2 separate regions of the Homo sapiens genome follow, and region 2 is linked to region 1. Evidence: fine-mapped expression QTL. A gene starts in region 1. The other region holds a variant in brackets. All regions are shown on one strand. Distances are between the middles of the regions.

Region 1 (5,388 bases):
CATTGTAATAACAAAGCATGGCTTTCTAATAAACCTGTTTGAATTGGGAGAAATAATGAAAAAACATTTATGAAAACAATGACAAATATGGTTGCAGTAGATACACTAAAGCAAATATGGACAGTAAAGAACATTAAAGTTAACGATGATTTTTATTAGTACCCAAAAGCAAATTCATATACACTAGATGATTATCTTACAAAACTATAACATGCCCAGAATGTCAGTTATTTATCATGAAACAGGTGATTCCTATGACAATGGTGGAAATGATTAAGAATCACACTATTAAAAACTTATGACTGCACAGTTAAGCCATAAAAGAAACTTTAAGTTTTTAGTGCATTTTCACATTGATTTTTAAATCCTGACAATGATCCTAGAAGGAAGATATCTATTTTTATGTGTAAATATCAAAGCCAAGGACATAGAGTTTAAATGACTTACCGAAGATCACGCAGCTTGTTAGTGACAGAGCAGGGATTAGAAACCGGGTCTCTTGATTCCCCGTCCAGTGCCACACAATGACGGCTGCCAATATCACATTTGTACAAGATAGTAAAAATTAAGCCTTTAAAAATCATTATTTTTATCTCTCATTCATGCTGTATTTTAGTTTCAGAAAAATAACGATTAAAATGGTTTAGAGTTTACAAATATGCTTTTTTAAAAAATTATGTAACCGAATTTTACTGCACGAGTTAGGCCAGAAACTTCTGTAAATTATTATCCACCAGGCAAGAAAAGAGTATTTGCAGACTTCCCTCTTATCATCTTATTAATAACACCAATTGCAAAATTTAAAGGAGTCCCCAGTGAGCCCAAAAGTAAAATTTCAAAGAAAGGCAGTCTCTGATGAGAAACATATTTTGGAAAACTGCAGAATTTGAATGCCTGAGGCAGCATCTTTTATTTAAACAAAATAAATCAGGTTTCATTGGACCAACTGCCAAATTGCCAGGGTCTCTCATATTTCAAAATGACCATTTATATCAGTAAGGTAAAAAATTCTGTTACTGAAAAGGAAAGACACTTTGAATATGTTTGGCTCTTCTTTTTAAATTGTAGGTAGCTTTACTATATTAGCTGGGAAGGGAAGAATGATAACGGAGGGAAAAGGTGAGTGAACCTCGGAAGAGAAATGTGAAGGAAAGCTAGTTTGATGGGTAAGATACCTCTTGGTCTTCAGAATCTACTCAAAAGAGAATCCATGCAAATGAATGTTACTTCTGTATATGTTGAATATACACTTAATTTCCTGAAATGAGAATTTTATCGAGCTTCTGTAATGATACCTTACCTTTAAGCAAAGAGAAAAACAGAGACTCCAAACAGAAAGCATTAAATAAGTGAATGAAGATGATCAATACTATCACATCTTTGTGTTTCATGGTTAATATAAGATGCACATACATAGCTATGTTATCTGCCAAAGAATATATATTAAAGACAATAATCCATATTGCTTGTGTTCTTTCTCTAACACAGTAACTCTATAGCTAAAAGTACTTTGATGATGCCATTTGACTTTCTCATCAGAAGAAATATAGTTCCTTCTAAACTTTGAGGTTAATTCATACTCAAGAAAAGATTCATTCTAGAAATCACCTACTTGCTGTATAAACAATGCAGGTGGTAGTTAACACTTTACAGATTTGAAAGGCAGTGGAACCCCAGGTCATTATTTGAAATTCTACCAGGAGGGATCCATTCTTGGGTGTAAAACATCACTCCTCTTCGATGTTTTCTTTTATATGGCAGTTTGGAGAGCAAAGATTAATAAGCCGAAAAATAATTATTGAATATCTACCAAAATGCAAGCACCTGCTAGGAACTGTGCTGCCACCATTTCAAATAAACATGGTCTCTGCTCCCAAGGAGCTCACAATCTGATGAAATTACTAGGGACACCAAAAACAAGCCAGCATAATACACGATTTGAGGGCTACAGTGTATGATTAAGATCAAGTTCTTATCACACTGCTATGAATAAATTTATCATAGTTCTTCTATTGGCAGGAAAACAAGACAGAACATGACAGAAATAGGATATAAGAAAATAAACATAAAGAGAGGAAAGCCTATTTCCCCCACTTAGAATCACAGTCCAACAGTCCACAATTTCGCAAAGTGGATCCTGCCAGCATGGTATCCGGGATAACTATATTATTCATTAAAATCCGTTAACAATGAAGGTTAATGCAGCAGGAATGAGTGGTAGACAGTGGAATAGATCCTCTCAGGAATTAACACCCGGAAGGGTGACTTTCATGATTACAAACCTCTTTGGCGGGACGCAGGAACCCAGCGCCCGCTAGCCCACTAGTCCGTCACTCTGCCTCCAGGAGGGAGGGGCACAGTAGCTAGGAAACCGGACCCTCAGGCCAAGCTTCGCGATGACGCGCGCAGGACGACGGAAACCCCCAGACCCCAAAAGAGCTCTGCACCGAGAAAACAATTACAAGGGTCTGGAAAGGCCAGAAACCCGAGAAATCACCAACCGAGCTCCCTACATCAGTTCCAAGCACCTCCCCAAGGCGGAAATAACGGGCACCGCGCCCACTGCAGCTCAGCTGAGGAGGGTTAGAGGCGCAAAGGGCTGAGGGGCGTTCTCCGGCCCACCCAAAGAGCGCCCGCGGGAATTTTTCTCTTAGTCCGCGAGGAGGCACGGCTTCCCCCGCCCCTCTCATAAACCATTAGCACCGGGAGCGCGAGCGAGTCCCAGCCGGGAGACAGCCCCGCACCGCCCTCGCGCTCTCACCTTTCAAAGCGCCTCCACCTCTGCCTCCGCCTCCGCCCCTGCCCCGGCAACCAGCTCAGGACAAGCGATGCTCCTCCCCCCCTTCCGGGGACCAAGGGAAGTCCCGCCTCTGGGTGGGGCGAGGGGTGGGGCCAGGCGGCGGGAGGGATCATCTTCCGGGAGCGTGGCTAGGGGCGGAGCGACTGCCGCGCGATAGTCAGGGAGCTGTGCGGGTCCTGGTTGCAAGAGAGGTGGGGAGAGGGGCCTGGCGGGTTTTGAGGGACTGGGAGGACTGTCCCGGCTAAAGCTGGCGCGGGAAACTGGGGCTGCGCGGCGGGAGGGCCCTGCTGCTGGGGAAGGAATCTAATATATCCGTTCCCCTGAGGAAGGGTGCCAGTCCTTGACTCCTAGGCTCTTCGGCTCTCTGTCGTAACTTTGGGGTGTGGCAGGGGTTAGTGACGCGCGGTTACCCGGGATCTGGACGTGCAGGAGGTTCGTGGCCACAATGGGGGTATAGTCTTTCTCACGGCTGCTGGGGTAATAAAACACATGCTTTTAATCCGGATTATCCGCGGTGACATGGGGCCTCCGCTACTGCCCGTATAAGTTAAAGAAAGGCCTGTTCTCTCAAACTTCCTCCTCTTTCACCTTCTTCTGCAGTCTATTTGCCAGCCAACCCCAGCCCGGGAGGGGATCAGGGCCACCAGGTTGCTGGTAAGGATGAAAGACTGAGTGTGTTAAGACTGTTGAAGTGAGCCTGTGTAAGAGAAGGAAGGATTTTGTGGATTGCTACATTGTGAGTGTGGGGTGAGTCCCAGAACCTCGCTATGTCAGGGAAACGGAAGCGTGTGGTGTTGACTATTAAAGATAAGCTTGATATAATAAAGAAACTTGAAGACGGAGGTTCTTCCAAACAACTGGCAGTGATTTATGGAATTGGTGAAACAACAGTTCGGGATATAAGAAAAAATAAGGAAAAGATTATAACTTATGCAAGCAGTTCTGATTCCACAAGTCTTTTGGCCAAGAGGAAATCTATGAAGCCATCCATGTATGAGGAATTGGACAGGGCAATGCTGGAATGGTTCAACCAGCAAAGAGCAAAAGGGAATCCCATATCTGGACCAATTTGTGCAAAAAGGGCAGAGTTCTTCTTTTATGCTTTGGGAATGGATGGTGATTTTAACCCCTCTGCCGGTTGGCTAACTCGTTTTAAGCAGCGGCACAGCATTAGAGAGATTAACATTAGAAATGAAAGATTAAATGGAGATGAGACTGCGGTGGAAGATTTTTGTAATAACTTTCGAGATTTTATTGAACGAGAGAATTTACAGCCTGAACAAATCTACAATGCAGATGAAACTGGACTCTTTTGGAAGTGCTTGCCTTCTAGGATTTCAGTAATCAAAGGTAAATGCACTGTCCCTGGGCACAAATCAATTGAAGAAAGAGTCACAATCATGTGTTGTGCCAATGCAACAGGTTTACACAAACTTAAACTTTGTGTTGTGGGGAAAGCAAAGAAACCTCGCTCCTTTAAATCAACTGACACCTTAAACCTGCCAGTCTCTTATTTCAGCCAAAAAGGTGCATGGATGGATCTTTCCATTTTCCGACAATGGTTTGATAAAATTTTTGTGCCGCAAGTTCGAGAGTATTTAAGATCTAAAGGCTTGCAGGAAAAGGCTGTGCTCTTGTTGGATAATTCACCAACACATCCAAATGAAAATGTCCTAAGGTCAGATGATGGCCAAATATTTGCTAAATATTTACCACCTAATGTGGCCTCATTGATTCAGCCTTCAGATCAGGGAGTCATAGCAACGATGAAGAGAAATTATCGTGCAGGTCTTCTCCAGAACAACTTGGAAGAAGGTAATGACCTGAAATCATTCTGGAAGAAGCTAACTCTGTTGGATGCACTTTATGAAATAGCAATGGCATGGAACTTAGTAAAACCAGTTACCATTAGCAGAGCATGGAAGAAGATTCTCCCTATGGTAGAGGAGAAAGAGAGCCTGGACTTTGATGTTGAAGATATTTCTGTGGCTACTGTGGCTGCCATTTTACAACACACCAAAGGATTGGAAAATGTGACTACTGAGAACCTTGAAAAATGGCTTGAAGTAGACAGTACTGAACCAGGCTATGAAGTGTTAACTGATAGCGAAATCATCAGAAGAGCACAAGGCCAGGCAGATGAATCCAGTGAAAATGAGGAGGAGGAAATAGAACTAATTCCAGAGAAACATATTAATCATGCAGCTGCCCTCCAGTGGACTGAAAATTTATTGGATTATCTAGAACAACAAGGTGATATGATTCTACCTGATAGACTGGTAATACGTAAACTTCGAGCCACCATCAGAAATAAACAGAAGATGACAAAGTCAAGTCAATAATGTCATTTCAATTTTATTGTTCTGCTCATTGTGTTTGTGACAAACTCTTTGCAATATGGCTTAATTTTCTTTGTGTTCTGAATTCTCAGACTTGGTCCTGTGAAATACAGGCACAAAATGTATCTGAAGTGGTTTGAGGATTATGTGTTTTCATCATCTGTGTCTTTTGTCCTTTTATTTGTACAGATAATCAGAAGATGATACTGAATAGATATAAATTACATGTACACATGTATTCACTTTTTA
Region 2 (5,388 bases), 31 kb after region 1:
GAAATTCAAAGGATCATTATGGCCACTATGAGCAAATATATGCGAATAAATTGGAAATCCTAGAAGAAATGAACAAATTCCTAGATACATACAACCCACCAAGATTGAACCAAGAAGATGTACCACTTGAATAGTCAAATAACAAGTCATGAGATTGAAGCTGTAATTTAAACAAATCTCCCAGCAAAGAAAATTCTGGGACCCAAAGGCTTCACTGCTGAATAATACCAAACATTTAAAGAAGAAGTAATACTAATCCCACCAAACTATTCCAAAAAAATAGATAAGGGAATACTTTTGAACTCATTATATGAAGCTCATATTACCCTGTATTGAAACCAAACAAAGATACATCAAAAAAAGAAAACTACAAGCCAATATCCCTGATGAACATTGATGCAAAAATCCTCAACAAGATACCAGCAAACTGAATTCAGCAACTAAAAAGATCACCAGTTAAAAAGACCATTAATCATGACCAAGGGAGATTTATCCCAGGGATGCAAAGATGGTTCAACATACACAAAACAATCAATGTGATACAGCATATAACAGAATGAAGGACAAAAACCATGTGATCATTTCAACTGATACTGAGAAAGCGTTTGATTAAATTCAACATCCATTAATGATAAAAAGCCTCAAAAACTGGGTATATAAGGACTGTACCACAAAGTAATAAAAGCTATGACAGACCCGCAGCTAATATTATACTGACTGAGGGAAAACTGAAAGACTTTCTGCTAAGATCTGGAACATGACAAGGATGCCCACGTTTACCACTGTAATTCAACTGGAAGTCCGCGGTAGAGTAGTCAGACATGGGAAAGAAATAAATGACATCCAAATTGTAAAGGAAACAGTAAAATTATCCTTGTTTCCAGATGATGTGATCTTATATTTGGAAAAACCTAAAGACTTGACCAAAAACCTATTAGAACTGATAAACAAATTCAATCAAGTTGCAGGATACAAACTCAACATACCAAAATCAGTAGTATTTCTATATGCCAACAGTGAACAAGCTGAAAAAGAAAAAAAGAAAGTAGTACCATTTACAGTACTACAAAAAAATACACAGGAATTAACTTAACCAAAGAAGTGAAAAATCACTACAGATATGGTCTGGCTCTGTGTGCTCACCCACATCTCACCTTGAATTGTAATCCCCATAATTCCCACATGTCAAGGGCAGGACCAGGTGGAGGTAATTGGATGATGGGGGTGGTTTCCCCTACACTGTTTTTGTGATAGTGAGTGAGTCTCACAAGATCTGATGGTTTTATAAGCGCCTGGCATTTCCCCTGCTTGTACTTACTCCGTCCTGCTTCCCTGTAAAGAAGGTGCCTGCTTATCCTTTGTCTTCCACCATGATTGTAAGTTTTCTGAGGCCTCCCCAGCAATGTGGAACTGTGAGTCAATTAAACCTCTTTCCTTTATAAATTACCCAGTTGGGGGTATTTCTTCATAGCAGTGTGAGAATGGACTAATACAGCTACAAAGAAAAGTATAAAACATTGATGCAAGAAATTGAAGACGACACACACACAAAATAGAAAGATATTCATTTTAATAGACTAGAAGAATCAAAATTGTTAAAATGTTCATACAACTCACATTACTTGACTTCAAATTATTCTACAGAGCTATAGTAACCAAAACAGCGTGGTACTGGCATAAAAACAGACACATAGACCAATGGAATAGAATTGAGGACCAAAAAACAAATGCATACATCTACAGAGCAATCATTTTTGATAAAGGTGCCAAAAATATACACTGGGGAAAGGACAGTCTCTTTAACAAACAGTGCTGGGAAATCTGGATATCCATCATACATAGCAGAAGGAAACTGGACCCCTATCTCTTGCCAAATACAAAAATGAAATCAAAATGAAAGAGTTCAATCTAAGACCTCAAACTATAAAACTACTTAAAGAAAACTTTGGGGAAACTCTCCAGGTCATTGGATTAGGCAAACATTTCTTGAGTAATACCCCATAAACACAGGCAACCAAAGCAAAAATGGATAAATGTGATCACATCGAATTAAAAAGCTTTGGCATAGCAAAGGAAACAATCAACAAAGTGAAGAGAAAACCCACACAAAGGGAGAAAATACTTGTAAACTCTCCATCTGACAAGGGATTGATAACCAGAGGATATAAGGAGCTCAAACCACTCTATAGGAAAAAAATTGAATAACCTGATTAAAAATGAGCAAAAGATTTGAATAGATGTTTCTCAACAGAAGACAC[A/C]CAAGTGGCAAACAGGTATATGAAAATGTGCTCAACATCACTGATCATCAGAGAAATGCAAATCACAACTACAATGAGATATCATCTCACCCCAGTTAAAATGGCTTTTATCCAAAAGACAGGTAATAACAGATGCTGGTGAGGACGTGGAGAAAAGGGAACTCTCATACACTGTTAATGGGAATGTAAATTCGTACAACCACTATGGAGAACAGTTTGGAAGTTCCTTGAAAAAGTCCCAAAATAGACTACCATATGATCCAGTAATCCCACTGCTAGGCATAAAACAAAAAGAAAAAAAAATCAGTGTATCAAAGATATAGCTGCACTCCCATGTGTATTGTGGCACTATTTACAATACCTAAGATTTGAAAGCAACTAAAGTGTCTGTCAACAGATGAATGGATAAAGAAAATGCGGTATGTATACACAAAGGAGTACTATTCAGCCATAAAATAGAATGAGATCTTGTCATTTGCAACAACATGGACAAAACTGGAAGTGATTGTGTTAAGTGAAACAAGCCAGGGATAGAAAGACAAACATTGCATGTTCTCCCTTATTTGTTGGAGCTAAAAATGAAAGCAGTTGAACTCATGGACACCAAGAGTAGAATGATGGTTACCAGAGGCTGGGAAATGGGTGAGGCAGGGGGAAGGGAGAATGGTTAGTGGGTATAAAAAATAGAAAGAATGAATAAGATTTAGTATTTGATAAAACAACTGGGTGACTATATTCAATAATAATTTAACTGTACATTTTAAAATAATTTAATTCTAACACAAAGGATAAATGCTTGAGGTGTTAAATGCCTCGTTTACCCTGATGTAATGATTACACATTGTATACCTGTATCAAAATATCCCATATACCCCATAAATATATATACAACTGTGTACCCCAATAATTAAAAATGAACACACACACACACACACACACACATATATATAATAGAAGTTGAAATAAAAATGCTTTAAAATAAAGGTAGACACACAGGGCATTTATTTTCTATTTACTAGATTAGAATACCTTTTTTCTAATCCTTAACACTTAATAACATACACAAAAAATAGTACTTAAAAATGCAAGTATGACTGTTATACATTCCATCCTCTAACAAGATAAAGTTTATTAAAATGACTGTTTGGCTGTTTGGTGATTTCCTTTCATCCATATCTGCCAAACTGCAAAGTGTAAAGAGAGGAAGAATGTGGTTTGTGGGAGTCAATGTTAAAAAAAAAAGGTATGTAAATAGTCTAATGGCAATAATGAATTAAGTGGATATTCATAATAACATAACATTTAGTGAATATTTACAGAAGCCTTAAATATGGCAGACACTGCTCTAGGTACTTAGAATTTAGCAGTGGACATATATATTGCTTTTAGCCCATGGTATATATTGCTTTTAGCCCATGGTAACACACAACAAATATGTTTTGTTTATTTCTCTATGGATCAACTGACAACAGAGAATTAGTTTGTGACTCAATAAAAGGGTCAACTTGACACTAGAGTTGTTGCCACATAATGGACTTCCTCCAGAAGTATTGAGTTTCCATCACTAGTAGAGTTAAAAGATTGATTAGACAGCCAATTGGCTAGACCATATGGGCTGTTTGATGAGATGCTCTTTTCAACTTTGAGACTCCATGATTCCTTCACATTGAAGGTATGGGGACAGAGCAAATTACCAAAGAGCAATACAAATGCTTTCAGAAGCTTTCATTCATGCATTAGGTATTATAAGTAATCTATTAAAGTATAGGTATTATAAGTAATCTAGACATGATTTAAAGTATATGATAGGATGTGCATAGGTTATATGCAAATATAACAGCTATTTTGTATGATGGACTTGAACATCTGTAGAATTTGGCATCTGAAGGGGTCCTGGAACCAATCCCCTGAGAACACCAAGGATTGCCTAATTTACTATATGTTAGGCACTGTTCCAACCCTTAGGGATCTTGCTTTTACACTGGGTATGATGGTTATTGGCATATAAGCCTTTTATTTGATTCCTCTAGTTTCAAAGAAGTATATTTGGCCATCAAAATATACCCAATTATATAATCTAGAAAGTCAACCCAAATTTAATAAGAATTTGTTAACAAATTTAACAAGACAGATAATGTGATTCTCTTTCAATGACCTTTTGTATTGAATTTCGTAGACATTTGTGGCCATTTCTGCACTTGGGACAACAGATTGACCTTTTCCTCTTCTGTCCATTTAAAATGATTTATTAACTATGCTGCAAAAAGATGATGCAAAAGGGCTGCTCAAAAAGGCTATATTTTGTGCTTATTTTCAATTTGGTGTTATTAGCCATATGTCATATAACCTTTCTAGGAAGAGAAACTATGCCTGGCACACTGATTCTGATTTGCTTATAGTCCTTCAATTTTAAGTCTAGACCAAGTGTAGTGATTACAGTGAGATGGAAGAAGTAATGGTGGACGTTCTTAAATGCCTTAACAACACTCGTCTGTCTATTCTTTCTTGTTTTCCTTCATAGACTCCTCTCCCCCTGCCTTTTCATTAAAATGAAGGTATTTCTTAAAATTCTGTCTAGCTCTTCTATTGTGTTATTCTTCCTTACCATGTCATTCATGTGTACTCTTATCCCAGGTCTAGAATCTACCACTATTAAAAATTTTGGTAAATCTAAACACTGTATTTCCAAGCAACACTACTTTTCTATGTTTTTAGATCAGTGTATCCATCAATCTAGGCTAATTGAAATTTTGAATTGTGTTATAACTTGTTTAACCATTTTCTTTTTATCTGTAAAATTAATTTTGACAACTTTAAGTGACATTTAGCAATTTCTCTAGTTTTAAGAAAATCTGCGTAATTGTTATATTTGTTTGGTTTATTTGAACTACGTTAGTGAGGTGATAAGCTAATTATCACTATGGTAAAATCAACCTCTTATCTCAATACAGATTGCAATTTCAGTGAATAATCACAGTTTTTTGCAATGAATCTTCACCAGAACTCTCTTTATCTAATTCATAAGATGGAATGGTTTGTTGTGAGACTTAAATTCTTAAAACATCCGTGACAATAGATCCCCACTTGTTTGAGTTTCTAATAAAATGATAACAGGTTTACAGATTTTGGC

What was found. PIP is the estimated chance that this variant, and not a neighbour inherited with it, causes the effect. A credible set is the group of variants that fine-mapping cannot tell apart.
Region 2: its variant is the best candidate, but not a certain one, in a credible set for the expression of CCDC82 in spinal cord (GTEx, PIP 0.90).

The regions. Positions count from the first base shown.
Region 1 is chr11:96,387,083-96,392,470 of GRCh38, forward strand. It overlaps CCDC82 (coiled-coil domain containing 82), which reads right to left and starts at 2,830. Exons shown (of 10, transcript NM_024725.4): 1 at 2,762-2,830; 2 at 448-531. JRKL (JRK like) reads left to right here and starts at 2,931. Exons shown (of 2, transcript NM_001261833.2): 1 at 2,931-2,991; 2 at 3,401-5,388. The coding sequence starts at 3,568. The coding sequence ends at 5,142. RefSeq lists a silencer at 2,744-3,003.
Region 2 is chr11:96,417,770-96,423,157 of GRCh38, forward strand. No RefSeq gene overlaps it. Among named protein-coding and RNA genes, the nearest start is that of JRKL, 30 kb to the left of the region's middle. The variant A/C (reference allele first, on the strand shown) is at 2,259.